Linked DNA regions of Homo sapiens: region 2 is linked to region 1. Evidence: fine-mapped QTL for protein levels in blood plasma. A gene starts in region 1. The other region holds a variant in brackets. All regions are shown on one strand. Distances are between the middles of the regions. Region 1 holds the start of VEGFC (vascular endothelial growth factor C). Region 2 has its middle 40 kb from the start of VEGFC.

The links. PIP is the chance, under the fine-mapping model, that this variant and not a neighbour inherited with it causes the effect. Protein levels are from antibody-based Olink assays in UK Biobank. Linkage for the fine-mapping came from a reference panel and not from the study's own genotypes, which makes the PIPs less certain.
Region 2: its variant is fine-mapped to the plasma level of the VEGFC protein (UK Biobank, PIP 0.95).

Annotation. Positions count from the first base shown.
Region 1 is chr4:176,785,194-176,801,135 of GRCh38, reverse strand. VEGFC (vascular endothelial growth factor C) reads left to right here and starts at 8,214. Exons shown (of 7, transcript NM_005429.5): 1 at 8,214-8,971. The coding sequence starts at 8,825.
Region 2 is chr4:176,824,656-176,840,597 of GRCh38, reverse strand. No RefSeq gene overlaps it. Among named protein-coding and RNA genes, the nearest start is that of VEGFC, 40 kb to the right of the region's middle. The variant T/C (reference allele first, on the strand shown) is at 8,325.

The DNA of each region.
Region 1 (15,942 bases):
GTTGGCACTCATAGGGAAAAGTGTGCTTGATTGTTGGTTTTGGCCACATCATGCATACATTTCTCTTGATATCTGAGTTGTCATATCAAGGAATGACTAAAGATACAGAAAGCAATATTCAAGTTAGAGAACATGAATTTTTACTGGGTAAGAAATAACAACCATTGGTTAACTACCCAGACTTTTGAGCCTTCAATGATGAAAGAAAATATAGAAGGAAAAAAACACCAGCCATTAAAATCTAGTTTTGTAAGTCTTGTAAAACTGTAAATTTTGTTAAGTCTTTTGTAAGTCTGCATATCTTTTTTTTTCTTTTTCTTTTTTTTTTTTTTTGAGACAAGAGTCTCGCTCTGCCGCCCAGGCTGGAGCTCAGTGGTGCATTCTCGGCTCACTGCAAGCTCCACCTCACGCCATTCTCCTGCCTCAGCCTCCCAAATAGCTGGGACTACAGGCGCCCGCCACCACACCCAGCTAACTTTTTGTATTTTTAGTAGAGACGGGGTTTCACTGTTGTGTTAGCCAGGATGGTCTCAATCTCCTGACCTCGTGATACACCTGCCTCGGCCTCCCAAAGTGCTGGGATTAACGGGCCAGGCACAGTGGCTCACGCCTGTAATCCCAGCACTTTGGGAGGCCGAGGCGGGTGTATCACCTGAAGTCGGGAGTTCGAGACTAGTCTGACCAACATGGAGAAACCCCATCTCTACTAAAAAATACAAAATTAGGCGGGCATGGTGGCGCATGCCTGTAATCCCAGCTACTCAGAAGGCTGAGGCAGGAGAATCACTTGAACCCAGGAGGCGGAGGTTGCGGTGAGCCAAGATCGCACCACTGCACTCCAGCCTGGGCAACAAGAGCAAAACTCCGTCTCAAAAAAAAAAAAAAAAAAAAGAAAGAAAGAAAATGCAGTTCGTATTTATTGGTGATAAGACTGAATATATTGCGTGAGTCCCTTATAATGCTTTGTCATGTCTGCCCAAAGTATGGTAGAACCCCAAATTGGGTAAGAAATATCCAAACTTCAAAGACTTTTGTAAGTCTTTGTAAGTCTTGAGTGGAAGCTGTCCACATCCTGCAGTTGCCATCTTGAAACAAAGCTTCGTGGTAGAAGCTGTCTCTATTCCAAGGGCCACTGGCTTCTGAAAAATACTTTAGAATCCCTAATTTTCAATCTTCTAATGGAATGTCAGTCCTTTTGTCAGTGGGCCAAACTTTGTGTCTTTTTAGCTGGGAGACATAAATCCAAGCATCTATACCCTCAAGTTTAACTGCTGTTCTAGTCAAATTTATCTGCTATTTCTTTCCAATGTGGTTTCTAGGAATTTTTTCTATGCTGTCTTTTCCAGATGACAAAGTCTTTGTTTTTCAGGTCGTGCCAAGATTCCTTGGGAGAATATGAAGAAAATGCAAGCCATACTTGTTGGTGATAAGAGTGAGTATATTGTGTGAGTCCCTTGTGGTGCTTTGCCATGTCTGCCCAAAGTATGGTAGAGCCCTAAATTGGGTGAGAAATATCCAAACTTCAAAGGGCGAGCTGTTACTGTCAGAATCTACCTTTCTAACAGACAAAAGTTTCCTCTCACTTTGGAAATTAGCAAACATTGACTAGGATATTCAAAATCCATACCAAGGAGGTGACTGTATGAAACCCATTTGTAAGGGTTCAAAGGTACCCTGACACTTGAGTTCTTGTCCAGCCTCCACCTTTACAGTTTAACTAGATTACGCTGGTGCAGAAGAGACCAGCAACTGGAGACATTCTCAGCAACCTCCATAAAATTACCCTACCAATGTTGACAAAGTACAGTGATCAATTTGTCCTTCTTGAGGTGGAAAATTTAATGAAAAATGTTTGCAAGGTTCCACCTGAGGTCCACTGGTGACAACAAACTGCCATTCTGAAAGTGACAGATTATGAAGAACATTCCTCGGTAAGGTCTGAAGATGACAGGCACAGTATGCAACAGGGAGAATTTGTGGATTATTAGAGATAGCCACCACTGGAGTTGTTTAACTCTGAGAAAGAGGTCATGTGACAGTGGCAAGTCTTTTGGTTGATATGATAGTGCCAGGATCAAACATTCACAAGACCACCTTTTAAGACACAGAAATTCTCCTTGAGCATTTAAGGGCAAATAGGAAACTGAGTCCTTGACCCTCATTTGGAAGAGCGTCACTGATTTCCTACTTCCTTTTTTTCCCCTTTAGTTTCATTCCGTGAGGGCTTGGAGGTCTAGCAACAGGATGATCTTCCTTTCCAGTTTTGCTTGTATGTTAAATTTCCCTATTTCTGACATTAGGCCACTCAGAGAAAGTGAAGCAAGAGCTGGCACTGCACATGTTCCAGGACCTACATCTGAATGTTTTCTATAGGTGTGATGGAGCATCCCCCTGAGGTTTCCAATGCTGTCATTTTTGTTTTGGTGCATAAACTCCAAAAGTTTTGTCTAAAATTTATAGCTTTTTTAAGTTCCTCTGGTTTTACTCTGAAATGTGGAGTCTCTTAAATCATACTCAAGGTATTCACACTGCCTTTTCCAACACATTTTGTTGCATTTGAGGTTGATAATAACCTATAAATCAGTTGATAGAGATCTGGGAACCCTGAATTATGTGTTCCTAGAACTATTGCAAATTTCTCTGTAAATTTATACCTACCTTGCATAGACTTTGGAAGTTTTTGAAAATGACGTTTACCTTAGACCCAACCCAGGGCTTAAAATCTGCCATAATGAGCTTATACTGATTTGGTCAACTTTAAGAGCCAATTGAGCATTTAGTGTTTCTAGCTGGCCAGAAGAAAAGGGACATCAGAAAGAGTGTCAGGGAAGGGGAACTTGGAGGGCAACTGGGTGAGAGAACAGGAATAGTAAAGGTAAAAGCTTTTTGAGTCAAGTGGTGATTTGGGCAGATCTAAAAAAGAGCTTTTCACATTTTTTCATTTGCGCCTTCCGTGGAACAATTACTGAAGCAATTGTGGAATCTGTATTTTTATTGTAAGACTTCTTATATCAATCAGAACATACATATCATTGAATGTTTGGAATTTCACTCTCTTTCCATAAGGCACCTCTCAAATGAACAGTTTTGTTCTTACAAAAGGTTTCTCAAATGGCCTCTGAAATTCTAAATTAATGTTGGTAAAATTAAGCTGTTTAGACAGAGATACATAGTATCAGTTATAGTGCAAAATACATGTAGGAGGCAGGAATATGGCTTGGAGGGGATATGAACTTGGGTTTAATCTGAGACAAAGGCAAAATGATCTGGCAATGGGTGGTCAAATGAGTTGTTTGTGTACCTCATGCCCTTGGCTCCCCAAACTAAAGGTTAGGTAATCTCCAGTGGCAAATCTGATAAATGTGCAGTTTGGGAAGACGGAAAGTTTGACCAAGAGATCTCATTCAAAATCAGTGTCTCACAGACAAAACAAGACTTCAAATCGTTGTATAAGCTTTTGATAAAGTTTATGGCAATATCTGTCTAGTCAATACCAATCCTTCTGGGCATCTAGTCCCAAGGGATGGCTCAGTGAATTGACTTAACAGGACCCGTGCTTATTCTCTTTCTTATGAACTTCCTTTTTTTGACTCCCATGAGAAAATTATGAAGGCAGCAGGGATAAAAAGCAATAGTAATAAGGCAGATATCTATTGAGGATAAATTTGTTCAAGTCTGATCAAATAATCAAAGGGTTCTTGAAAGGAGATCTTTTAGCATTTGGTAGCTTGATAAAAAGAAACTGGGACTGAAATCTAACAGAAGACATAACCCTTCATTGCAGTCAGAGTGATTCCCCCCACCAAGCCAGGAAGCTCAAGAGGCCTCAGTGATTTGCACTATTTTTGAATTTAGGATCTTTGCTTGAGCTACTAGGGAGAAGGATTTCAATGGGACCTCCAAGTTGTTGTACACCCGAAAATATCAGTAGAAAAGTTTTCAATAAACAAAAGTTCCATTTAGCCGAACCTACAGCAGTAAGGGAGAGTGCCACCTGGACAGGGTCTTAGGGTGTCTTGGGTAAGTCAGAAGCAGAATAGTTGTAGAGCTTTGGAGTCTGGACACGAGTAGTTTAAGGTGGGTCTTTCAAAGTGGGGAATTGAGTAAGATTGGGCAACGTTCATGATCTAGTAGTTTAGGATCAGTTAACATCTGTAAGTGAGAGTTTGGGTAAGAAAACTGTCATTAATAAGCAGGCTGTTTACCAGAGTCAGAATATTATTATCTTCGATATATTGTTTTGCCAGCATTTCTTGAAGCAAACACTGAATTTAAATACTGGATTGCAGTCTTATCTTTTCCAGGCTAATGTTTCCTAGAAGAAACAACTAAGTCATGTGTACATAACTGGTTCATAGTTTTACCTAAGTCATGTTCACAGCTGATCTCAATTCTTAAAGCCTATGATTTTAATATCAGAAAAAGTAGAACTTCAAATAAAAATATCAGAAGTTAAAAAAATGACATTGTATACTACCAAGAAGAAAATTAGATCAAAATGATATAGTATCCCATTATGTTAAAAAATAACAGGAAGAACTACTGTCAGAAACAGAAAAACATGTCAACAATTATAACTGGAGATTTTAACGTCATTCCCAAACAAGATTTGAACATTATAATAAGCTCAAAATTAATACCCAACAAAAATAAAGCACACACAGAATTAGTTGCAATGATCAGCCATGTCCAGGACTACAAAGAAAGCCTGAATGCATTTCTAAAAGCAACATCATTTATAGCAAAAATTAAATATAATAAAATTAGAAATTGATAAAAATCATATATCCCTAAACTAAGAAAACACAAATAATTTGGGGGTTAAAAATATAAACAAATTAAGATATATTTGCAACTGTTTGCCAAAGGAAGCACTACGTATCAAAATTGAGAAATACAAGTAAAGCAGAATTTAGACAAAACTTGTATTTTATTGATCGACTGATTGATTGCAGAGATGGGGTCTTGCTGTGTTGCCCAGGCTGGTCTCAAAGTAACTTCAAGTGATCCTCCTTCCTCAGCCTCCCCAAATGCTGGGATTACAGATGTGAGCCACCACACATGGCCCGAAACTTGTATTTTTAAACTAAAAAGAAGAAAAATGAACTAAGCATTCAGCTAAAAAAGCTTGAAATGAAGCAACAAAGTAAAACTAACAAAGCAAGAAGGTAGGGAATAACAAATGAGAAATAAAGTAGATGGTCAGAATGGATATTAGAGAATGTACAATGGATATATTATCATCATTATTTTGCCATCCAAAACTATCATCTCCCATATCTACTTGGGAGGCTGAGGCAGGAGAATAGCTTGAACCCAGGGGTTGCAGTGAGCTGACATGGTGCCACTGTACTCTAACTGCACTCCAGCATGGGAGACAGAGCGAGACTCCATCTCAAACAAACAAACACACACACACACACACACACACACACACACACAGACACAAAACACAAAGAACAAAACCTATCATCAAAGAAAACAAAAACTCAATATGTAAAAGAGGTGTTATTCTGGCTGGGGCCCTGCTACCTCTCTTTCTCCACTGACTGAGCAATGCTTTTTGAATAACCAGATTTAGAAGACCTGTTGTAAAATAGGTCTTGCATGAAGCTAGTGATGAACTCACAAACCAGTGAAAAGGACTTTCTCAACCTTTAAAATCTGCTAGTGGCAAAAAGTGTTTCCAGGGGGTAAGGAAGAAAAAAAACCAAAAAGTCCTGAGCAACTATTCGTTTTTACCTTAAGACATTCTGTGTGTGTGTGTGTGTGTGTGTGTGTGTGTGTGTGTGTGTGTGTGTGTGTGTGTGTGTGTTTTAAGTAGAGACGGGGTTTCACCAACGTTTGAAAATATTTATCATGGTCTCCCTAAGATGGACGGTGTTAGCTAGGATGGTCTCGATCTCCTGACCTCATGATCCACCCGCCTCGGCCTCCCAAAGTGCTGGGATTACAGGCGTGAGCCACCGTGCCCGACCAACCTTAAGACAAACAACTACTGCATGATTGTTTTTGGAGACCTTTTTTTTATTCAAATAAACTTTTTGCCAGCATTTTCTGACTCAAAGTATAGCAGCAGGAAGATAACACTTTTGTGAGAAAAAAGTTTGAATACAGCTTACTGCTGTATTTAAATGAAACAGTAGTTAATATGATATTAATATATTTTGGATATATTTTGAGTTTGTTGATTTTCCAGTCTTCACCCGCTGCTAGGCCTGTGGGTGTTGGAAATGCCTGTGGTTCTCAATTTTGTTTGCCTATTAGAATCCTGATGTCCAAGCCTTACTCCAGTTAGACCAGTTAAGCCAGAAAGGCAGAAGGTGTACTCAAGCATCTGTTTTTTCAAAATCTCCTTTTGTGATGCCAAGTGCAATCAAAGTTTAGAATCATTGTAATAGCAAATGGTTGAATGGAAACTCCACCTTCTATTCAAATCCTACCCCAGTCTGCCCTTAGCTGTTCCCTTTTCACAGATCTATCAATGTCTGAAGATAACTATGGCAGGCTGATCAAATATGCATAGAGCAGGAAGACAGCAAGAGAGTGATACACTGACCATGTTCCAAATCACAAAACATCTCAACAGGCTAGATCATGGACCGAGTCTGATGGGATGGAATTTCATAAAGATACATAAAAAAGCATCTTGGATACAGTAAACTTAACTCCACAAATACAGGGGAATTTAGACGTGACTAAGTAGCAGTACATATGAAAAATTATTGAGGAATTTTGTTGACTTTAAGGGTAGTGTGAGTCAACACTGTGATTTGGCTGCCAGAAAATAAACTCAATCCAAGGCTGTATCAACAAAGGCATACTGTCCATTCTGCATGCTCATTACAGCACTAAGTACCGAGCCATGTTCTCAACCGCATACTTCATGAACATGGAAAGCTAACAGTATGGTTAAGGGGGGAAACTGGAACTGTCATCTTGGGGAATAAAAGGGATATTTAGCCAGGAGTAAAGTTAGCTTAGGGAGACCATGATAAATATTTTCAAAATATTTGAAGGACTCAGTTGTGGAAGTGAGATTAGATTTATTGTGTAAAACTCCAGGAGTCAAAAGCAATAGAGAGATAGAAGGAAATGCTTTTCAGCAGTGTTGCTCATCAATAAAGGGAGTGAACAGCCACACAGAATGGAAGGTTCCCTGTCCTTTGAGATATTTAAGCCTTCAAGTAAATTATGGGTGAGGAGTTTCAAATCTAGAGTTGAACCAGATAAGAAAGTCTCTTCTTCCGGTAAGATATTATGGACCTATAACATCTGTGTACTTAAAAGTAGATTGGGAGTGAAAGGCAGACTTTTGATGTTCTGTACACTGTTGAAACCCCTTAGCGTGGTCCTCTGTAACCTGCTCACCCTGCCCCAAGGAGGCAGCTAGCCAATGCCACCAGCCCAACGGAAACCCCAGTGCTTTTCCAATGGGGAAATGCAGTCACTTTTCTTTGGATGCTACACATCCTTTCTGGAATATGTCTCACACACATCTCTCTTTATCACCCCCTTTTTCAAGTAAACCAACTTCTTGCAGAAGCTGACAATGTGTCTCTTTACTCTCCACGAAGATTCTGGCCCTTCTCTTCACCTGTCAGAAGTTTAGGATTCCAAAGGGATCATTAGCATCCATCCCAACAGCCTGCACTGCATCCTGAGAACTGCGGTTCTTGGATCATCAGGCAACTTTCAACTACACAGACCAAGGGAGAGAGGGGACCCCTCCGAGGTCCCATAGGGTTCTCTGACATAGTGATGACCTTTTCTTGGAACTTTTACAACCCCCAGGACATTTCCAAACTTTGAGCAGGGCTCTGGGGGCCAGGCGTGCGGGAGGGAGGACAAGAACTCGGGAGTGGCCGAGGATAAAGCGGGGGCTCCCTCCACCCCACGGTGCCCAGTTTCTCCCCGCTGCACGTGGTCCAGGGTGGTCGCATCACCTCTAAAGCCGGTCCCGCCAACCGCCAGCCCCGGGACTGAACTTGCCCCTCCGGCCGCCCGCTCCCCGCAGGGGACAGGGGCGGGGAGGGAGAGATCCAGAGGGGGGCCGGGGGAGGTGGGGCCGCCGGGGAGGAGGCGAGGGAAACGGGGAGCTCCAGGGAGACGGCTTCCGAGGGAGAGTGAGAGGGGAGGGCAGCCCGGGCTCGGCACGCTCCCTCCCTCGGCCGCTTTCTCTCACATAAGCGCAGGCAGAGGGCGCGTCAGTCATGCCCTGCCCCTGCGCCCGCCGCCGCCGCCGCCGCCGCTCAGCCCGGCGCGCTCTGGAGGATCCTGCGCCGCGGCGCTCCCGGGCCCCGCCGCCGCCAGCCGCCCCGCCGCCCTCCTCCCGCCCCCGGCACCGCCGCCAGCGCCCCCGCCGCAGCGCCCGCGGCCCGGCTCCTCTCACTTCGGGGAAGGGGAGGGAGGAGGGGGACGAGGGCTCTGGCGGGTTTGGAGGGGCTGAACATCGCGGGGTGTTCTGGTGTCCCCCGCCCCGCCTCTCCAAAAAGCTACACCGACGCGGACCGCGGCGGCGTCCTCCCTCGCCCTCGCTTCACCTCGCGGGCTCCGAATGCGGGGAGCTCGGATGTCCGGTTTCCTGTGAGGCTTTTACCTGACACCCGCCGCCTTTCCCCGGCACTGGCTGGGAGGGCGCCCTGCAAAGTTGGGAACGCGGAGCCCCGGACCCGCTCCCGCCGCCTCCGGCTCGCCCAGGGGGGGTCGCCGGGAGGAGCCCGGGGGAGAGGGACCAGGAGGGGCCCGCGGCCTCGCAGGGGCGCCCGCGCCCCCACCCCTGCCCCCGCCAGCGGACCGGTCCCCCACCCCCGGTCCTTCCACCATGCACTTGCTGGGCTTCTTCTCTGTGGCGTGTTCTCTGCTCGCCGCTGCGCTGCTCCCGGGTCCTCGCGAGGCGCCCGCCGCCGCCGCCGCCTTCGAGTCCGGACTCGACCTCTCGGACGCGGAGCCCGACGCGGGCGAGGCCACGGTAGGTCTGCGTTAGGGTTTGCGGAGAACCCGAGAGTTTGCGTTAGGGTCTGCGGCGGACCCGAGAACCTGCGCGGGGGAAAGTGTGTGTGCTTTAAGCTTGTGTACGTGGGATCCAAAGTTACTGAGCTCAGTGCACGCTGCTTTGGAGAAAAATCTTCTTCTTTTTAAATAGAAAGTTGTTACTAGAGAGGCAAGCAAGTTACACGAGTGAAGGGCCCGGAGAGGTGCCCAGTGAGAGATCCCGAAATCTATTTCAGACTGGTTTCCTCTGGGGCAACCAAGGGGTCTTGAACCCTGCCCAGTCAGCGGGGCTCTGGAGAGTATGAGTTCATTTTGGTCGGGAAATGCTCGTTTCTTTCCCCAGCTGATTCATGGGACTCCAAACAGATTCTGGGACACTGGTGATCAGTCAACCCAGCCTTACTTTCCTGGAGTGTTCATAGTCTGCAGAGCACCAGGCGCTGTGAGCGACTTTAGAAAAAAAGTGTCAGGGACTTTAGTAACCAGGCTCCAGAGCTTTCAGAGTTCACTTGAAGTTGGTCAGACTTGAGATGTAACGGGAGATTAGAGTCAGTTAGATCACAATCAAGCAATGCAAGGCTTGTTTCAACTTTATAAGCTCTTCATTCCTAAAATCTGGTCATGAGATACTGCAAACTAAGTTTTTTTTTTTCTTGTTTGGGTTTTTTGTTTGTTTTGTTTTCTTTTAAATAAGAGGTGTTTAATCCTTTGCCTGAAAATGTTGCCAAAATACTTTTGAGGCATCCTGATTTTGAAAAAGGATTTGTGTGTGTTCCTACTTCTTACTGGCTCTTCCAAAAGAGTATATCTTTATCTAAAAAGTTCATACCTGCCATAACCATATAGAGTATGCTTAAGAGAGTTCCTAAAGAAGTTATATTCGACATTTCAGTTCAAACACTTGCAGTACCCCTTGCTGGAACTATACTGCGGTAGTTTATTTCAACTGGTGGCAAGTGGAGAGGTACCTGTGGTGTGTTACAGTCAACTTTAATTTGACTGTTGATTAACACATACACAATGTGTAGAAAATAGCCTTATATTTTGAAATATTTTATTTATATTTATATTTTGAAATACACTTAAAGATTGAGAAGACTAATTTTTGGAAATCAAACTACCTTTGCATTTAAATTTTGGGAAAACATTAAAATGTTGGAATGTGTAATAATTTAATATAGGGGTTAAAGGAATGCCTCTTGAGTAAAAACAATATACATGAAATAGAACAGACTGCATTCTGTGAATCACAAAAATAATTTTCAGTGCCTATACTTACATTGCCGTAACTATAGTGATGAAAATATCTTTCTGTTCTTAAATACCGCAGAAATGTAATAATCGGCTCAATAACGCTTCTGATAATTTGAGTCCTTGATTTTGCAGTACCTATTTGCTATTTCTGCAAAGTCAAAACTAGTAAAAGTATGATTTAGTAAGGCAACATCTCTGTATTGGTTACGGTCACTTACTTTGGTTTACAGTAAGAAAATGTGCAGTAGAGAGTAAAATGAGAAACATTCCCTGATAAGCCAATAGCCTGTATGAGAGTCACTCACTGCTGGGTGAGTCTAGAATTAATGTACCTTGAGTGTGTGTGTGTGTGTGTTTACGTGTGTTATGTATAGGTATGGGATTGGAGGATTAAAAAAGTTAACTTATTTTTAACTTTCAAAAGTGTCTTCGTTGGTGATGTAAAATTTGCCATTGGTGATATGGCAAATTTTACCATTGCTGTGAAAATCACTATGCATTTTTGTTTGCAAATGTCGCTTTTCATATTTAACCATTTTTATATTCTGTATGGTGAATATGGGTTAGTATTCTGCATGTGATGTGGGTTCCTTTCCTATGTGATGAAACATCATTTCCCATATGAAACATCATCTCTGAGTTCCATAGACCACAAAGCAGTATTTCATTGCTCCATTAAAGTGTCGTTCCCCAGTGGGTGAATAGAGCCTTGACAGGGCATGTGTCATTAATGCATTCAGTGAAACTGCTGTGTCCTTGCTATGAAACATGTCACACAACTGCCAAGAAACTGATATGAAGACTCTATGTCTCTCCCTAGTGGCCTGTACAAGCACCACATTTAGATTTAAGCACTAGAGAAGAACTGGGGAGAAATCAATTGTTAATTTTCTATAACTACATGAACCCCAAGAAAATATTTCAGAAGGTAAACAGAAGATGCTAAATATCTATAATCCCAATAGATGCAATGTTTTCATAACTTTCACCTAGGAACTTTTTTAATATTTAAAAAATCAAAAATAGCACACAAACTATGAACCAAGGTTAGCCATCCAGCCCTTCAGCCCACCCGTAAAGCCATGCAAAAGATTGTAGGTAAAAATCACAAATAGAATGAAGATCTCCTTATTCCTCGACTTATATTTGCATTTACTGGATTCCTATTTCTAGTTATTTGTGGTTGCATGACTTACTGAAAAGTCTTAAAATGTTTCTCTGAAGGATGTTAACACAAACAAGACAGTGTCAAAAAAGTAAGGCAGGCAAAAGTAAAATTAACTGGACATGATGGGAACAAAAGAGAATAGCAAGTCTGAAGCTGTTCTATTTACAATTTTTCTTATAGTATATGATTATGTTTGTCAACATCTACTCTTATAAGAGATTTCTGACATTCCTCTGAGTGATGCTACTTATATGAGGTTTTAGATATAGAAAGTTCAATTCATCTTTCATTTTGATTTCCACTCCATTATAGTCTTCTGAACTATGAATATCTGATTGATAGCTATTTATTCACAAGACAGTTATCAAAATTGCTTCATAGAAAGCAGTTAATTACTGATCTTAGTGGCATATGTCTAAGACCCGTAGATCTCTAATCCTGTCCTTTTCAGTTGAGTTGAGAAAGACGGAGGGTAGTGGATTTAGATTTCATTTTGGACTTCCAGTTCTGGTTCCGGTTCCTCTTGAGAGGAAGGTCCTGGCCTCCTAGTTATCTCCATGTGTCCAACCCAGAATGCTGTTTCTCAGCTCTTGCTGGGGTTTTCACCAACAGAGGAACTGGCGTGAGACTAATGAAGGTTTCCCGAATCCCTGGGACTGTGCTTGCCTGCTTGCCTTTGGCAGTCCTGGGGTTGTTATTGAGAGTAGGAGTTTATAATCATTATCTGTGATGTTCATAACGTGTGTTAAGCACTTCGCAAAGAGCTTTGCAAGTTAGTTTTGTTTTTCACTACACCTCCATAATATGGACATTATTTTATTTCATTAAGGATGATGAACCCAAGATCTGAATGACTTAACCAGGAAAAAGAATAGATGTTTTTTTCCTTTTTTTCTTTTAAAAAAAGTTTTATGGCATATACCAACAGTCCCCGACTTAGAATGGTTCTATTTAGGACTTTTGGACTTTACAATGGTGCAAAGTCGATAGACATTCAGTAGAAACCATACTTCAAGGTTTGAATTTTGATCTTTTCCTGGGCTAATAATATGCAGTAAAATACTTTCTCTGGATGCTGGACAATGGAAGTGAGCTGTGACCAGTCAGCCATGTGATCGTGAGAGTAAACAACAGGTACTCTACTGTATATTAAATATATTTTCAACTCAGGAGGAATTTGTCAGGATGTAGCCCCATCGTAAATCGAGAAGCATGTATGTTTTAGAGAAATGTGGTAATGGGTTTGGGCCTTTGGGCCTGTGATTCAGACTCCTTTCAGCCCCTCTGCTGGTCTCCTTTGGCACACTATAGCAGCGTGCAGGAAGGCAGAGAAAAGCACTGCGTGTGACTTTGCAGTTAGGGGCACCTTGTTGCATTTATTTAGGTCCTAATTCCCCACAACGGGACAAACGGAAATAAACCCAGACTTTCTTCCAGGCTTTACCACATGGTGTTCGTTTGACTAAAGATAAATTATAAATGACCTAATCCATGGTAATATTATAAGAACGACTGCTTAACTGGAGGCTTAACAAGATTTTCTGACAAACGGTTTTTCAAAGTTGTGCTCAAGTAACTTCAGTGAAAGATTGTGATTTTACCTCTGCCAAATGACCTTTCACAAATAAGTGGATTTGGAAAGAACAAATTTAAGTTGGCAGAAGCGTTATACTTCCTCTGACTTCTGAGCATATATTGTTTCACCTTTCACCAGTTACATTATTCCTTGTAGATGTGCATTTTATAAATACTATATGGGTCTACCTTTTGTTACAAACACATATTTGTATGTACAGATTTGTATAAATTGTGGATTAAGTTATCATTGATTTTTCTCATTAGAAAAAACAGATATAGCAGAGAACTTTAAACAAGGAGAGATGCTGATGAGTTTGAGTTATAGTGTAATTATAAAATTTACTATAAATATTTTAGGTTTGTGTAATTGTTTTTCTGAAACTTACTAGTGTAAATTTTTGGGGTGGCTTCTTTCCTCGGTTGATTAATTTTTTTTTTCAGAGTTTATGTTTAACCATGAGAAAGCAGAGACTGTTTTTATTTAATTTGCTTTATTGGGCATCCATCATGGAATTAATCAAATTGTACATTAAATGCTTTGTCAGTGGATTAGTACTGTTTCCTTATACTGCTCGCGCCCTAGTGGCTTTCAGGTGTTAGGAGTTATCCACGATAGTTTTTTTTCCAATTTTGAAATCCAAAAACTCATTTTCTTTTTCTTTCTTTCCTTTTTTTTTTTTTTTTTGAGACAGGGTCATGCTCTATTGCCCAGGCTGGAGTGCAGTGGCATGATGTTGGCTCACTGCAACCTCTGCCTCGTGGGTTCAAGCGATTCTCGTGCCTCAGCCTCCCAAGTAGCTGGAATTACAGGCATGTGCCACTAGAGCAGGCTAATTTTTGTATTTTTCATAGAGAGAGGGTTTTGTCTTGTAGGCGAAGCTGGTTTCAAACTCCTGACTTCAGGTGATCCACTTGATCTCCTAAAGTGCTGGGATTACAGGCATGAGCCACTGCGCCCGGCCCCAAAAGCTAATTTTCTTAAATTATTTGGTGCTATAATCCTGATCTGAACTGACATAAGGCTATTTATAGTCATTATTATCTAATTTAAATATTTCTAATCTTCACTGGGAAAATAGTAATGTATTTATTTACATGATGCTGCCATCAGTCCTGCTTGTTTTTGGGGTGTGAGTATTAATATGTCTATGCACTTGGTTTCCAGAAAAATTCCAGGTTCAGAGACTCTTGCAGTCTCCAGGCATTTTGGATAAGCAGATGGATTGTAGCCCTGTTCCACAGGCCTTCCTCCATTGCTTTATTGCCTTGGGGCTGCCTGGAAGAGGCAGGGAAAGGTAATCCAGGAATTCAAGAAAGAAGCCATGTGGATGCTCCTAATTCCTTTTTACCCATTAGTACCAGGTTTATTTGCTCTTTAATCTACTTCAACTCATGTTAATCAGTTCTTACTAGTGGCAGCTTCAGTTCTAAGCAGGAAATTACAGTTCAGTGTGTGATGCAAAAAATGTAGAGTGAGTGATCTTGTCTATAACAAGCTTATAATCATTTTGGAGAAAATAAATTTACTCATTAAAAATACTACAAGTGAATTAAACTATAAATCCAGACCATGTAAGTGGTTTTGTAAGAGAGTCTTGTGAGTTACCACCAGTTGTTGGCTAGCCTTCTGGGAGTTGCATGGGCAGGCCTGGGAAAGGTGGAATGATATGAGACCCAATGTTAAAAATGAGTAGATGCTAATTACAGAAATGGGGGAGAGAGGGATGTTTTGAATATTGAAGAATGACAGCAAAGTACAGAGGAAGTAAAGGTCAGGGATATTTGGGGAACTAGAAGCAAACCCTTTGGTGCAAAAGTCAAGAGCTTTAAGGGAAACTGAAGGGAGCATGGTGGGAAGTGTGAAAACCAAAGAGAAAGTCTGAGTTTGAGTTGAAAGCAGCAGGAGCCAATGAAGATTCTTTAGTGGTATGCTGAAAGTGAGGTTTTTAAGGAGCTTAACCTGGCATTGTTGCACAGAAGTGTCTAAGAAAGCTGACCAGAAGCTTCTCAGAAGCTTCTCAGAAGCCATTTTCAACTGCAGGGTTTCTTAAAGTGTCTGGCAGTGACTCTGCCTTTCTCATTACAGTGGCCACCCATATATGGTATTCGAACTCCTCTATATGCTCCTGATTGCTGGCGATGATAGTGGTGATTACTTTTGACTTACTGTAGGCACCCATCATTGTGCTATCTGGATACATTTACAAAAGTATAGAAATAGACATCTCTGCCATTATGGTTTGCATTCCAAACGAAGCAAGCAGTGTAAACAGTGGTCATGCTTAGATACACATACACAGAACCCCCCACACACATATTCATGCATACACCGCTTAATAGTTCTTCAGACTGCCAAGTGTGACTTACGTGTTCTTTCTTGCATGGTTAAGAATTTGTAGACAGTTCATTGAAATAGAATATTTAGACAATCAGAAGTGTACAAGATTAGAATCTCTATATTTGCACACACATTTATTTGTAGGTCAGTGGGCAATTGAAAAAAAAGAGAAGGAGAGAACCCTAAAGTGTCCTGGAAATTCCTGCTTTTTAAAATCTGCTAAAAATGAGACCAGAAAGGTGGGAGTGGGGATGTGAGGAGGTGGGTAAACTACCAAATAAACAATATAAATACTTTGGCTGTTCTTATAAAAGGTTTTTTTAAATATGGTGGAATAATTTACTCAAACTCAAGAGATGCCACCTACTAGAGAAAGGACATACTGAAAGAGGAAATATTCAAATGCACAACTTTGTGTAAAAGGTAATACTTACAAGTTTAAAAGACTCACTTCTAAAGAAGTTTGGCTTCAACCTGTCCTCATTTGGACAGGTGGAAAGATGTATATTTTGGGGTAGACCAGAAAGATGTGGTTTGACTTCTATAGTTGAAAGGTTTCTATTTAGACATTTATTTTGTAATTTAATTTACCTAAAACTTCATCCCTAAA
Region 2 (15,942 bases), 39 kb before region 1:
AACTCACTAGCCTTGAATTTTGGGACCACTGTTAAGTAAAAAAGGGTTACTTTAACACAAGCACTGCGATGATACTGCCGACAGTTGATCTGACAGTCAAAGCAGTCACTAAGTGACTAACAGACAGGCAGTATATAGAGCATGGGTACTCTGGACAAAGGGATGATTCTGGTTCTGGGTGGGCTGGAGAGGGACAGTGTAATATTTCATCACACTATTCAAAGATGTCCAATTTAAAACTTAAAGTTAATTATTTCTGTAATTTTCCATTTACTATTTTTAAACTGTGGTTGACCACAAGCAGCTGAAACCATGGAAAGTAAAACCACAGATAAGGGGCAGGGGGAACTACTGTAGTGTAATAAGAAATATATTTGTCGGGGGATGGGGGAGGGATAGCATTAGGAGATATACCTAATGTTAAATGACGAGTTAATGGGTGCAGCACACCAACACGGTACATGTATACATATGTAACTAACCTGCATGTTGTGCACATGTACCCTAAAACTTAAAGTGTAATAAAAAAAAGAAAAAAAAAAGAAGAAATATATTTGTTCTTTGTCCCAGTGCCTAGCACAGAGCTCCTAAAACTCTTGAAATTTCCCTGATCAGAGAGTCTTCTTTTATGCATAAAGAGCTCCTTTCCACAGCAGAATGTATGCTAATTAGTTGACTTTGGATGGGATCCCTACATAGCCTCAGGTTGGGGCTGGTTACCAGAAAGACCAAGTGATTAGAGGGTGGAAACTTTCAGCCCCACCCTTGACTTTTAGGGAGGGAAGAAGGGCTGGAGACTGAGCTCTATAAAAACTCTTGAATAACAGGAATCAATGAGCTTTAGAATTAGTGAACTTGTCCACCCATGGAGGATGGAGATGGAAGCGCCTCTGCTTGGAAACCCTTCTGAACCTCACGTTATGTATCTTTTTATATGGACGTTCATTTGTGTCCTTTATAATAAACCAGTAAACATAAGAGAAGCATCTTCTTGAGTTCTGTGAGGCATTCGAGCAAATTACCAAACCTTAGGAAGGGATCAGGAGAATCCTGAATTTATAGCCAGTTGGTCAGAAGTACCGGAGGCCCAGGATTTATGACAGACACCTGAAGTGGGGGTAGTCCTGTGGGACCAAGCCTTTAAGCTGTGGGATCTGAGCTAACTCTGGGTGTCAGAATTGAACTGAGTTGTTATACACCCAGCTGGTGTCCAGAGAATCAGAGAATTGGTTGTTGGAGTTGGAAAATCCCTCAGACTTCCCAAGTTTCCCTTTGCATATTTTTAACCTATTAGTCATACTTATGGAAAGAGCAGTAGCTTCATTGATGAAACAAACATTGCTAACCAGTATTACTGCTTCACTATGTGCCTTCAGACAATTAATTTGGGCTTAGTGAACGGTATTTAGAGACTCATGAGAACGAGGCAATAGCCAAGATACACTTGGAAAACAGTAAATCTTGAAATCGAAATGATGAACTAGTCCTATCATCACCTTGAATTGATAAATGAGAATAACATTCCTTTAAGGTTATTCACTCTAGTGTCATGTTAAGTAGTTCTCTCACTGACTTTGGTTTAGATACTTTCTGAATATGCCATTCTCTTTACCCATTTTCATAGTCAAACACTGAGTTAAAATATTTAGGCTTTCCTTCTAAATCATTTTCTCCATTGTCTAACTTTTTACTGCTGGTGTTTATTTTTTATTTTTGAGTTATTTCTAGCATTTCAGGATCCTAGTGGCCTTCCTGTCTGTGCAAGTCACAATACACGGCCAGCACTGGGCGTGCCCAGTGAGGTAAGACAATAAGAAACTGTCCATGGCATGGCCTTTAAAAAAAACTGTAATACTGTGTTGGAATCATTCCAAACATCACAATTGCGGTTTGTCACATCTTATAGATCTGAACCAAAATTATTCTTTTTTAAAAGATGTCATCACACATTTATTGGGGAGGTAAGGCAATAAATGGATCATTTAACACGAATATAATTTTGCACAGAACACTTGTCTGTGAAGGAACAGGAAACAATGTGTTTGTTGAAAAAAATCTACTTTGGGTCAAGCATTACTAATTAATATTGATTGCTTTTTTACTCTGCATATGAATCCTCATCATTGGTATTACAGGTCCATAATCCCTTATATGAAATCCTTCCGGCTAAATATGTGTCAGGATTCCGAAATCTTTGGGTTTTAGGCCTGGGGTGTCTTTCTTCGGTAAACAACATTAATCCTTCCTCAGTGAAATGTATGCATATCTATATAGGATAGAATAAGTAAAGGCTGTAAGTAGCCCCACATCAGTGCTAGTCAGGTTTTCACATAATGGATTCGGGTCACATCAGGTTTTTCTGCAAAGTAAGAAAAAAATGGTTTCTAGTGGTTTAGGGGTTTCAGAATTGTGAATAAGGGATAGTGAGCCTGTACTACCCTAGTTTTATGAAGGGAAACTTGGCATCTAGAACGGTTACTACAAGTTAAAAATACAGAATTTAAACCTAGACTTGTCTTGATCCAACGATTGTTGTTGCTCTATTGAACCTAAATTAAGGATTATGAAGTTGTGTTCCTTCTGTAAGAGTAATTAAAGAATTGGGTTCTTCAAGGGACACTAAAAATAAAAGCTGTAAAAGATTATCCATTATTGAATCAATATTTTTAATACTTTTGAACAATTTTCCAGTGTGATCACCAATCACAAAATCACAGGAAAGGTTATTTTTCCATGGTTTAGAAGTTAATTTTTATTCAATAAAAGGAAAGCTTCTCTGCTTTCTCCACTTATCTAATTTCAAATTAACTCAAGTGGCTGTCAAAGAGATTGCTTTGACTCTGAAAGTTTGATGGTAGATTAGATTTGAAGGACCCAGGAAGCTATTATTTTCATGGCAATCCTTGTGGCCTGTTAATTAATTATGATTTATGTTCATCTGTGTCCCCACCCTACAAAGACCTTTTTTTTAAAGCCTACTAGAGGGTATAGGCTATTAACAAGGTATTAACTGGATATCACGGACACAATGACAATGCAGTTTTGCCTGGGCAAAAAAAAAAAAAAAAAAAAAAAAAAAAGCTAGTATGCTATTTGACCAGAACTTTGACCAGGATTTTAAGAAAAAACATGATGTTTTATCCTGAATACTAGATGCTGCATGCTAAAACTTTAGAGCAAGTAATCCTTTCGAAGGCCAAATATAGTCCCCATGTGTTGCAATAAACCAGGATTTTCTACACTTACCACTCTGCCCTTAGGTGAACTTCCCATGATTATACCACAAACAAAGAAACAGAGTAATTCTCGTGGAATACTTGAAGCTGGAAATAATGAGTACAATTCATGCCATACATTTTAAGAAATGGGTTCTTAAAAATAACTAAAATTTTACTCCTACGCTGCTGTCCTCAGTGAGCAAAGAATCATCAGATCATCCACTTTAAGAAGATTTCACACTATAGTCAAATTAGTTAAATATTTGGCAAGCAAATTTCTATTGCATCTACAAATTTTATGTAATAACTATTTGTAGCCTAATAATTGTAAAAACAGCTTTTAACCTCCATACCTAGGTCTTCACTAACAAAGTTTGATGATTCAACAAATGAAGTTCTTAGGAATGTAACATTTGACCAATATTCAGAAAGGTGGAGTCATTATGCATTTTCAACGATGTTAAGTATATCATGCCCATTTTCCTGTATTTTTTTCCCATGGAAAGTTACAGTTGGAAACCATGCAAAGTAGCCTAAAATTAAATTTTCCTAAGTGAGGGAATTGCTACATAATTTTCTAAAAAGCAAACCAGTCAATAATTTAGATTCTACTTGTGATCTGCTTTGGAGTCATTTTTAATATGCTTATCATGTTGGCCTAGAAATATAAACACTATGGTATATTTAGCATGAATAATTCCATAATAGGTTTGAAATCGATTTAAAGGTGGTTTATTCTGGGACCCCTCTCCTAGGATTGCAGATGGCCATCTTCTCGCTGTGTCCTCAGACGGCCTTTTCTCTGTGCGTGCATTGCTGTTGTCTTTTCCTCTTCTTATAAGGACATCTGTCATATTGGATTAGGGCCCCACCCTTATGACCCAAATTTCAATACTTACTGTTGCAGTTAGAGGGATAGGACAGTAGGTAATTGTGTGTAAACCCAAAGAGAGCAAGATGTATATGTGGTGCATGCTATTGTAACTAATATTCTACTGGCTCTTTATTAACTACCATACACTCAATTATTTACACGTTAATTGTCTCTTTAAGGGCCCTATCTCAAAATATAGTCATGTTGGGTGTTAAGGCTTCAACATATGAATTCTGGTGGACATGATTCTGTTCACAACAAGAACTTATACAAATACAGTGGCAATAGAAATAAAGAGAAGTAAAATTTGAGAGACATTTTTGAGAGAGAATGATTAACTGAATGTAGAAAGTGGAAAGAATGAGAAAGGATTTAAAAAGCCTTCACTGGGCATTTGGTATATGCCAGACATTTTGCTATGTGCTGAAGATTGACAGGTGAACAAAGAAGACACAACCTCTATGTTCAAAGAACAGCTGCTACTTTAAAATAGCAAAATGAAACTCTATATTCTAGAATGACCTAAGTTACTTAACTTCATACCTGAGCCTTAAAAATGTAAAAATTCAAATATTTACCTTTGAAAGAATGTAGGCATTGGGATTTGTCAGCCATGATTTTGAGTCATGAGTTTGCAGTTCATCAGTTTTGTGACTTTGAAGGGTAAATATTTCTGAACCTCAGTTTCTTCATCTGCAACATATGACGAATAATATCCATTTTATATGGTTGATGTCAGAATAAAATGAGTTGATGTGTATAAGGTGTATAGCACATTACCACATCCACAATAGACATTCAATAAATATTGTTAGTAAAAACACATGTAGCTTCCATAAACATCATGAAGTTTTTTAGTTTGTTTGTTTTTCCTGATGGAAGAGGAAAGAGAGACATGTAAGGGGTGAGGATGTGACAGATAGGAATAAAAGCTACAGAAAAGGTGCATAGAAAACCAAAAGAAGCTTTGCTTTCTTCATAGATAAGTTCTTTCCTTCTCCTAGCTTTATTTGTGGCCCAGAGACCCAAATCATAATTAAATACAGCAACCTGAATCATAATTTAGCACAGGGGTTCCCAACATTTTTTGGTATGAAAATCTTTCATTAACATTAAAAAAGAATCCAGACACTATAGTAGTAGTAACTTTATTTTTAATCATTGCCTAAGAAATATATAATAAAAATACACTCTAAATCCAATAAAATTTAAAAGTTAATTTGTATTTTATCATATTGAAAAATACAAAGATATTATTGTAATATTTATTTAGTTTAAAATATATATCTGTAGATATGAATCTCTTTAAAGTAAGTCTATAGAACCCTGAATGTCTATGGCCCATAAATTTAGACCCATTGGCCATTTGTAGGTCAGAAATGAAGACATTAGTAGATTTCTGCTATAAACCTGGTAAACTTAATCAAGTCGTTCATTTAGCCTCTTAGAGCCTCCAATGAAATATCATTGAGATTACCTGTTCTACTTTTATGATGAAGTGTTAAGTGTAAATGGAATAAGTGTAAAACATTCTCACAACGAAAGTTCTGGTTCTCTTTGGATTCCATGTTGGCTGCAATTGAAGCTATGGAGAGGGAAAATACTGTGAAATGTGAAATTGTTACAGTAGTGGTGTTAGGAGTCGTTGTGGTATTAGTAGTCAGAGTATTTCCTGGGGAAATGACCAAGTTATTTTTCTGTACCCTAGTTCTTTGTAGAACCTAAAACTCTATATTTATGTGTTATCTCCAAAATTCAGATATTCTTTGGCTATGAAATGGAAAAAATTCTTAAAGTAGTAAAACTTTTCTATCATGGCTCATGACACTTTTTATTAGTGGAAATTGCCTAATAGTGTTGGCTGGACGAAGTCCAAAACAGACTTTCTTCTCTTCTTATAGGAAAATAACAAAAAACATAAATGCTTTCTGAAGGAAGATTACATGATTAGTGAGGGGGCACTGATGATACTGCTCTTTTGGTAGCATCAGGAAAGCAATTGAAGTTTCAGCGATGGCTAAAGTTGGAAGGGAATGGGCAACATAGACAAATTTAGAGTATGGTTTAGAATCAATAGGGGATGTATTTAAAATGGGAGTTCCACTTGCATTTACAAATAAGTTAATGACCAATAAGCAGTTCATATACTTTCAAGGAGTTGAAGAATTATGAAGACGAGAGATTCAAGAGATTTAGAATTTGATGAGAAACTGCTTTTTTTTTTTTTAAGTCTTGTCACTTGTCTACTGTTAGGCATTTTACCCTAAGTGAATAAGTGAAATAATTTATGTTTTTGATAAAACTATTCTCCAAGTACAAAAATCAATGCTCAGTAAGGCACAGTCCTACAAAACTTTTTGATAATAACGACTATGTTTCAAAAGTTAGTGGCTTTTCAAATGCAAGTATCTAAAGAAGAGATTTGAAACTGTCCACAGAAAGAGCCATTAGATTAAAAGGCTATAAATTATTAGACACCTTATTACCAGAAGAAAAAGAGGAAGAGACAGCCTGGCTGATCTTAAAGAAAGATAACAAGACCAGAAAAGGGTTCCCAGCAGGACAGCAAAGTTGGTGTGAGGAGTGGGAGATGCAATCCTAAAGCTACAAGGGAAGGAGAAAGGGGCAAGATCGGACAGATGCAAAAATTCTGTGTCTTTCCTGGCTCTTTCCAAAGCTCCAGTTGACACATCCAAGCAAATTTTATACCTAATTTGCCTTCTTTTGAGCTTGATATTATAGTTTTTCTTGCACCATGTTACCAAATGTTATCTTTTCAATCAATCTGGAGTGCTTTATTTTCTAAAGATTTGCTCAGTATTTTCCTCAGAGACACATTTCCAGACAGCCTGTTTCTCATTAGCTGGAATAAACAGGAGTGTGTTTACAGCATAGCGCCAGACTTAAAAGAATATCCTTTCCTAGGGAAGCTAGTCAGGGAATTAGCAGTGCTGGACTTAAAGCGGTGAATTGGAGTGTCCAGCTGTGACATAAGACAGAGTATTGGTTCATTCACACAGACTTTAAAAAGCAAACTGTATAAATCTTTTTGACATAAAGATAGTTTTCTTTTGAACACATTTTTAAGCATATGAAACTCTAACACATTAAAAACCCATTTATGCCAAAGAAATATCATATATAGTGATTAAAAAATGTTTAACTTCTGTTCAGCAAATATTGACTACCTACTGTGGGCAACACAGAGACTATAAAGATGTATAAGACATTAAGTAGCTCACAATCTAGTGAGTAATCCAACTTACTGCAAAAATAAAACCCATAGAAGTTGCTCACTAATACTATATGTTTACAAAAACATTGGAGTTAAGTCCATTACAAATGCATGAGAATTTATCAGTGGAGGTCAGTAACCTCATCAAAGGAAGTAATAGAGAATGTAGTCGTCCCTCAGTATCCCTGGGGGATTGGTTTCAGGACCCCTCACAGGTGCTAAAACCCATGGATGCTTAAGTCCCCATAAAAGGATGTAGTATTTGCATAGAAACTATGCACATCTTCCCATATACTTTAAATTATCTCTAGATTACTTATAATACCTAATATGATGTAAACACTATGTAAATAGTTATACTCCATTGTTTAGGGAATTGTTAGTAAAAAAAAGTCTATACTATATATGTTTAGTACAGATGCAACCATCCATTTTTAAAACATATTTTCAAACTACAGTTGGTTGGATCCACAGATGTGGAACCCACAGATATGGAGGGCTGACAATAAATGTGCTGATAAAAGAGAATATTTGCACATATTTTTAGCATTATGAAACAGATATCAAATATCTTAGCTAATGAAATTTATCAATAGCAAGGAAAAATCCACTCACGCTTATGTAATCACATTGTATTAAATTTGACCTATCTTCCTGTCCTGGAGGTAATTGTACTCTGATGGTGATCCCAGTCTACCAAGACAATAAAGTGCAATAAGAGTGAGAAATTCAGACTATTAATAGACACTGCAGATAATTTACACATAAATAATTGGGAACGTGGTATTTAATAAAGAGACAGTAGAATGTTATTTACAATAGCATCTATCTGTCTCTCTATCATCTATCTCTATCTATCTATCTATCTATCTATCTATCTATCTATCTATCTATCTATCTTTCTATCTATCAATCATGTATCTATATATCTTGTTCTCTCTGAAAAGGGTTCCCAGCAGGACAGCAAAATTGGCGTGAGGAGTGGGGAGAGGCAATC[T/C]TACAGCTACAGGGGAAGGAGAAAGGCGGAAAGACTGGAAAGCTGCAAAAAAAATCTCAATGTCTTTCCTGGCTCTTTCCAAAGCTCAAGTTAATACATCCAAGCAAATTTTATACCTAATTTGCCTTCTTTTGACCACACAGAAATATTTCCTGTAATATTCCTATAACAGCAGTTTAAAGTATAGAATATTTGAAATAAATATACAACACAGTTCCTTCTTATAAAAAAACAGATAATTTTTAAAAGAATATATTTATATTACAGACATGTTTAATATTGGACAAAAGTCTTGCCCCCAGATGTTTGCAGCAATATTCTGGTACCCCTCTGCTTCAGGTATTAAAAGATAATATTGAATTAGTTCCAAAAGAGAACATTTATTTATCCAAAAGAGAATTATTTATTTCCAAAAGAGCTCATTAGTTGCTTGAAACTACATGCTGTTTCTACATAGTCGTATGACATTTAACATTATTATTCTTATCACTACATTATAAATTAGATTTTAAATCCAGCAGCTATTTCTGTCTTCATGATAGAATTTTTAAAGGGATTTATATTTGCATTACTTTTTTCTTGGTTGGAATCAGTAAAAAAAGTAAGTGCAAGTTCAAAATTTTATAAATTATTACCTGTTTCTTGATGTCTTGATACGTTTATTTGTGGGATCTAAAATACACTTTTTTCGGAAGAGACTACATGTCGGATAATAAAGCAAAATGAAACAAAACAAAACCCTGCTATGGCTGTTTGGTGCAAGGAGAAAATGTTTTAATAGTACATACTCGGTGACTGGAATATTTTACACTACTTATGATTATCACTTTTTCTAAATATTGAGAAAAGTGTATTAGGAATCTATATAATAGTGACTGTTGTGGCTCAAAATAGAAAATAAATATTCTACAGGATATTTTGGCATATGAGATGGTGGAAAGAGAATAGAAACAGTGAGAAAGAAAAGATGAACAGAGTATTTCATTCCATTAGAATGGAGCTAAAGCAGAGTAGTCTCAGTTCACGTGAGCTGTGATGCTCTGGAAGTCATCCAGAAGAAACTGCTTGGAGTATCACGGTAAGCACTGAGGACGGTATCTACTGGCTAAAGCTCAAGCGGACATCTATGTGGAATGTAACTTTTGAATAGAACCACTAGAGGATGACGAGGTCTCACCGACATACCAAAGGTGTTTTGGAGAAGGCACAGGCACACTCATTTTTGAATGTTGTCAAGTGGAGTGCTTTGATCAGAAAATGGAAAAAAAAAATCTTTCACCAGAAGAAAGAAACCTTGTGGAAATTACAGTACATTAATAATAGCTAGTCTGGCAACCTTCACAAGGAAAAGCTAAGTTCATCCAAACGTAATAGTTTATTTTCCCCGCACTTAACCAACAATAAGGTCATTATTTTCCACTAATTTATTCAGAATTATTCAAATTTAGTTTATCTTCACAATATACCTTATACCGATTAAAAGCAAAACATGGAACTCTCACTTTCTTGATTTTTTAGCAGTGTGATGTTTAAAAAAGCAGTTTGTTTCTCAAAAGTTATAATATTCCTGGGAAAATGTAAAAGAAGCTGGTGAGGGCCTTGGACTGAGAAGGTAGATGGATGTCCTGGAGCAAAGATATTTCTTCTGAGCAAGATCTTTTTAAAAAACTGGATATAAAATTCATATAACTGAAATTCACCATTTTAACCATTTTACAGTGTATAATTTCAGTGGCTTACATAATACTCAAAATATAGCACTATCTAATGCCAGATAATTTCCATCACCCCAAAAAGAAGGCACTTATCCATCAAGCAGTCATTCCCCATTCCTCCTCCCCTCACCCCATGAGTAATACTTTCTGCCTCTTTGAATTTACCTATTTTCTGGATTTGCCTATTCCAGATATTTCATATAAACAAAATCATACAATATGTGACCTTTTGCATCTGGTTTCTTTCACTTAGCACAAGTGAATGTTTTTAAGGATCATCCATGTGGTAGCATGTGTCAGTACTTTATTCCTTCTTATGCTTAAATAATAACCCATTGCATATATATATATATATATATATATATATATATATATATATATACACACACACACCACACTTTTTTTTTTTTTTTTTTGAGACCGAGTCTCCTTCTGTTGCCCAGGCTGGAGTGCAGTGGCGCAATCTCGACTCACTGCAAGCTCTGCCTCCCGGGTTCACGCCATTCTCCTGCCTCAGCCTCCAGAGTAGCTGGGACTACAGGTGCCCACCACCACGCCCGGCTAATTTTTTGTATTTTTAGTAGAGACGGGGTTTCACCGTGTTAGCCAGGATGGTCTTGATCTCCTGACCTCGTGATCTGCCCGCCTCGGCCTCCCAAAGTGCTGGGAGTACAGGCGTGAGCCACTGTGCCCGGCCATGCAGGACTTCTTAAGAGAATTATCTGTTCAAGTCCTTTGCTCATTTAAAGAAATTGAGTCATTTGGCCATTCGTTGTTGAGTTGTAGGAGTTCTTTTTATATTCTAGATATTAGACCTTTAGCAGATATATAATTTGCAAATATTTTCTCCCATTCTAAAGGTAGTCATTTCACTTTCTTAATAATGTCATTTGTTTGACAAAAGTTTTTAATGTTTTATGAAGTCAATGTATTTATTATTTTCTTTTGTTGCATGGCTTTTGGTGTCATATTTATGAAACCATGGCCTAATCCAAGGTCACAAAAATTTACACCTATGTTTCCGTCTAAGAATTGTATAGCTTTAATTCCTACATAAGAATTAAAACGTATTATTTGACACTTATAGGGTTAATTTTTGTAAAATGGTGTGAGGTAGGCATCCAAATTCATTCTTTCACATATGGCTAAACAATTGTATATACATTGCATATATTATTGGATTTATTTTTATAAATTTTTGATTGACAAATCATAATTGTGTACATTCATGGGGTACAATGTGATGTTTTAATATATGTATACAGTATGGTAGGATTAAGTCAAACTAGTTAACATGCCCATCACTTCACTTACTTATCATTTTTTATGGTGAGACATTTGAAATTTACTCTCTAAATTATTTTGAAATATATAATACATTATTATTGACTATAGCCACCCTACAGTGGAATAGATCTAGATCTTAAAATTGATTCCTCTTATCAATCTAAAACTTTGAACCCTTTGATCAACAACTCCCTATTCTCTTTATCCCTACCCTAACCCCAGCCTCTGGTAACTATTCTTCTACTCTCCAATTCCATAACTTTGTTAGATCAGATGATCTTTGTCTTTCTGTTTCTGGCTTATTTTATTTAGCATAATGTCCTCTAGATTCATCCATGTTGTTGCAAATGACAGAATTTCTCCCTTTTTAGAGGCTGAATACTACTCCATTGTGTATATTTACCACATTTTCTTTATCCATTCATCCATTAATGGACACTTACATTGTTCCTGTATCTTGGCTATTGTGAATGAGGCTGCAATAAACACGAGAGAACGGACATCCTGTTGATATATTGATTTCAGCTCCTTTGGATAGATACCCAGAAGCGGGATTACTGGGTCATAGAGTAGTTCTATTTTTTGCTTTTTGAGGAACCTCCATACCATTTTCCATAAAAGGTACTAATTTACAATTTCACCAAAAATGTATGAGCTCTCTTCTTCCCATTCTCTGTATCACTTGTTTTATTTCCTCTTTTTAATAAAAGCCATTCCAATGGGTCTGAGGTAATATCTCATTGTGGTTTTATTTTGTATTTCCCTAATAATTACTGATGCTGAGCATTTTTCCATGTACCTATTGACCATTTGTGTGTCTTCTTTTGAGAAGTGTCTGTTCAGGTTCTTTGCCCATTTTTTAAATCAGGTTATATATTTTCTTGCTATTGAGTTGCTTGAATTCCTTACATATTTTGAATATTAACCCATTATAAGATGCATGATTTGCCAGTATTTACTCTCATGCTGTGGATTTTCTCTTCACTTTGTTATTTGTTTTTCTTGATGTGCAGCAGCCTTTAGTTTGATGTAATCCCATTTGCCTATTTTTGCTTTTGGTGACTGTCCTTTTAGGGTCATATCTTTAAAAGAATTATTGCCTAGAAGAATGTCACGAAGCTTTTCTCCTGTGTTTTCTTCTAGTAATTGTACGGTTTCAGATAAGACCTGAATATTTAAGTTTTTCATCATTTTGAGTTGATTTAGTGGAATACTTAGCCAGATCTTAGGCAAAAGAAAGAAATAAATGGCATTTTAACAGGAAAGGAAGAAATGAAATTGTCTCTATTTTTTTGGTAACATGATATTATATATAAAAACCCTAAAGACTCTATCATAAAAATTTTAGACCTGATAATAAATTCGTAAGGTTGCAGGATACAAAATCAACATACAAAAATGGTAGCATTTCTAAATGCTAATAATGGGCTATCTGAAAAGAAAATTAAGAGAAAAATCCCATTTACAATAAATACTTAGATGTAAACTTAACCAAGGGGGCAAAATATCTGTTAACTATAAAATGCTGATGAAAGAAATGGAAGAAAATACAAATAAATGAAAAGATATCAAATGCTCATGGATTGGAAGAATTAATATTGAAAAAAGTCCCTACTACCGAAAGTGATATGCAAAATTCAATGCAATCCCTATCAAAATTGCAATGTTATTTCTTACAAAAATGGGAAAATATCCTTAAATTCATATGGATCTACAAAGGGAACTACAAAAAACCCCAAACAGTCAATACAGCCTTGAGCAAAAAGAATAAAGCTGGAGGCATCACTCTCCCTGATTTTATCTAGTTCAAACAAATACCAATCTAGTTCAAATTTTGACTTCAATCTAGTTTAGATTAATACCAATTTAATTTCAATTTTATAAGAGCTTTGCTCCTATACCACTCAATCTCCCTACTTTATGTTGATATTATCACAAATTACGTATTAATATGCAGTGTGCCTTCAATATAGATTTACAACCATTGTTTTACACAGTTGTCTTTTAAGTTAGATAGGAAAAAAAGTTACTGTATAGCATTCTTTTATTTCAGCCTGAAGGACTCCCTTTAGCATTTTTGCAGAGCAAGAAAGTTACTAGCAATGAATGCTGTCATTTTTACATTTATCTGAAAATATCTTGATTTCCCCCTTTATTTTTGAAGGGTAATTTTACCCAATATAGAATTATTTTTTCTTTCAGCACTTGGAATATGTCATCTCACTGCCTTCTGGCTTCCATAGATTTTGATGCAAAATCAGAAGTTATTTTCATATTAAGCATCCCTTGTAGGTGACAAACTGCTTGTTGGTGACAAACTGCTTTTCTCTTTCTATTTTCAAAATCAAGTTGCTGGGTAAGTCAGGGAGTCAGAGGTATGTATGCATGCTGCATGGACGTTTGGGAAAGTCTCTTCAAATGGAGAAGTCACTACCATCTTCTGATGCAATAAATAGAATGCTAGCTATTCTATTTATAGCTTCACTGTAAATAGCTGTTCTATATAGATGCTGGAGCTAGAACAGCTATATTGGTATGTACAGTGAAGGGCAATGAAAGGTAGAACAGGAGCAGGGGAAGAATATGTTCTCTGTCCGTCATGGACTATCTACCTCTGCACATTTTCTGTGTGAGAAAAGAAACATGTATATATTTAAGCTACTGGTTGTGGTTGGTATTGTCACTGCTTTTTTTTTTTTTTTTTTTTTTTTTTTTTACAGAGTCTCGCTCTGTCGCCCAGGCTGGAGTGCCCTGGCACAATCTTGGCTCACTCAACCTCTGCCTCCAAGGTTCAATCAGTTCTCCTGCCTCAGCCTCCTGAGTAGCTAGGATTATACAAGTGCCCACCACCACATCTGGCTAATTTTTGCATTTTTAGTAGAGACAGGGTTTCACCATGTTGGCTAGGCTGGTCTCGAACTTCTGATCTCAAGTGACCCACCTGCCTTGGCCTCCCAAAATGCTGGGAGTACAGGCGTGAGCCACCGCACCCAGCCTTGCTGTATTTTTATTATCTGATATATGCAGAGAAATCTGATCCCAATAAAGGGGTAGGAATAGTGCTTATCTCATAGAAAGTTTTGTGATCATTTAACTGAGAGACAAGTGTGGAGCACTTAGAGTGACACCTACTGTGCGGTACTTTTCTGTAAGTATCAGCCATTCTATTATCTAGTTCTCTCCTTAGTTTCAGAGCCCAGGAGGAAGGAAGCAAGTTAGACCTCACTACTAAGAAACCTAGAGAAGAATGTAGGGGTCAGAGAGCATTATAGGCCATTATTAATAGAAATAGGACAAGAAAAAAACCATTAAAATATTGAACCCATTTCTTTAGAAACTCAGACACTTTTAGCTAGATAAGGCTGCATGATAAAGAATTTGGCTAATCTTTGTCCCCAGCTCCTGATAGATAGACTTTAAATTCTTGGAATTTCCTAAGAGATAGGAGTGTCTTTCTGAATCATAGTGAGCCCCTCAGATAACACTTGATAATTTATACTAACAAGATGACTCACAGTGGGCTCTTAGTTTAGGCTAATTAGATGAATTAGAATGGGATTACCAGAAGGATCAACTATGTAATTAGAGGGTTGGGCCTTTGAATTGGGTAATAACAGCTTAATCCCTGAGGGAGGTAGGGAGGCTAGAGATTGAGTAGCATGGCCAAAAATTCAATCAATCACATCTATGTAATGAAATCCCAATAAAATCCATGGACACTGAAGCTCAGGAGAACCCCTGGTTGTCAGCTCTTCAGTATTGCCGCACAAGTGTGTGTTGAATAGAATGCCATCTAGGACTCCACAAAGACAGGACAATGGAAGCTTCAGGTAAGGCCCCTGTCAGAGCTCACCCTGTGAGTCTCTCCCTTTGGATGATTCTAATTTCCTTTTGGTGTAATAAAAGCATAATCATAAATACAGCACTTTCCTAAGTTTGGTGAGTTATTTTAGTGAATCAAATGTGAAGAGATTGTGGCAACCTCCAAATTTGTAGCCGGTTGCTCAGTAGTGAAGGTGGCCTGGGGAACCTCAAACTTGCAGCTGGCATCTGGAGTGTGGGCAGTCTCATAGAGGAGTGTGTCCTTAACTTGAGAGGTCTGGCTCAACCCCAGGTGGTTGGTGTAAGAGGGTCAGGGCAGGGGCAAAATAAACTGACTTGTTTCTCTCTTCATTCCTTCTATGACATCAGCTTTGAAAGGCAGTGGTTTAGTTCTGGGCTTGAATTCTTCCTATATTCAGCCCAAACTGCCTAGATGTGCACATACCATATTTACCTTTGCATCTATTAGGCATTATGGAGTATCACTGAACTGCAGAAAATCAGTTCTCAAAAAGGGAACTGTCATGAATATCAAGAATATTGAATTTTAAAACTAAGGAAGTACCATAGCACTAGCTTAATTTGACTCGGGATTATATTACTTCTGTGGCAGACAAAAACCACAAACTCCTTAGTTTTAGGCAAACATCTAAAACAGCAATGTGAACACTCTGCTGAAAGGTCTTAACTTCAGAATAAAAATTGTGCCAGCTTTGAAACAATTTTATCTTCTTGCCAGCATAATTAATAACCCTCAATTTAAGAGCAAAACACCAAATTACTTTTAAACCAAA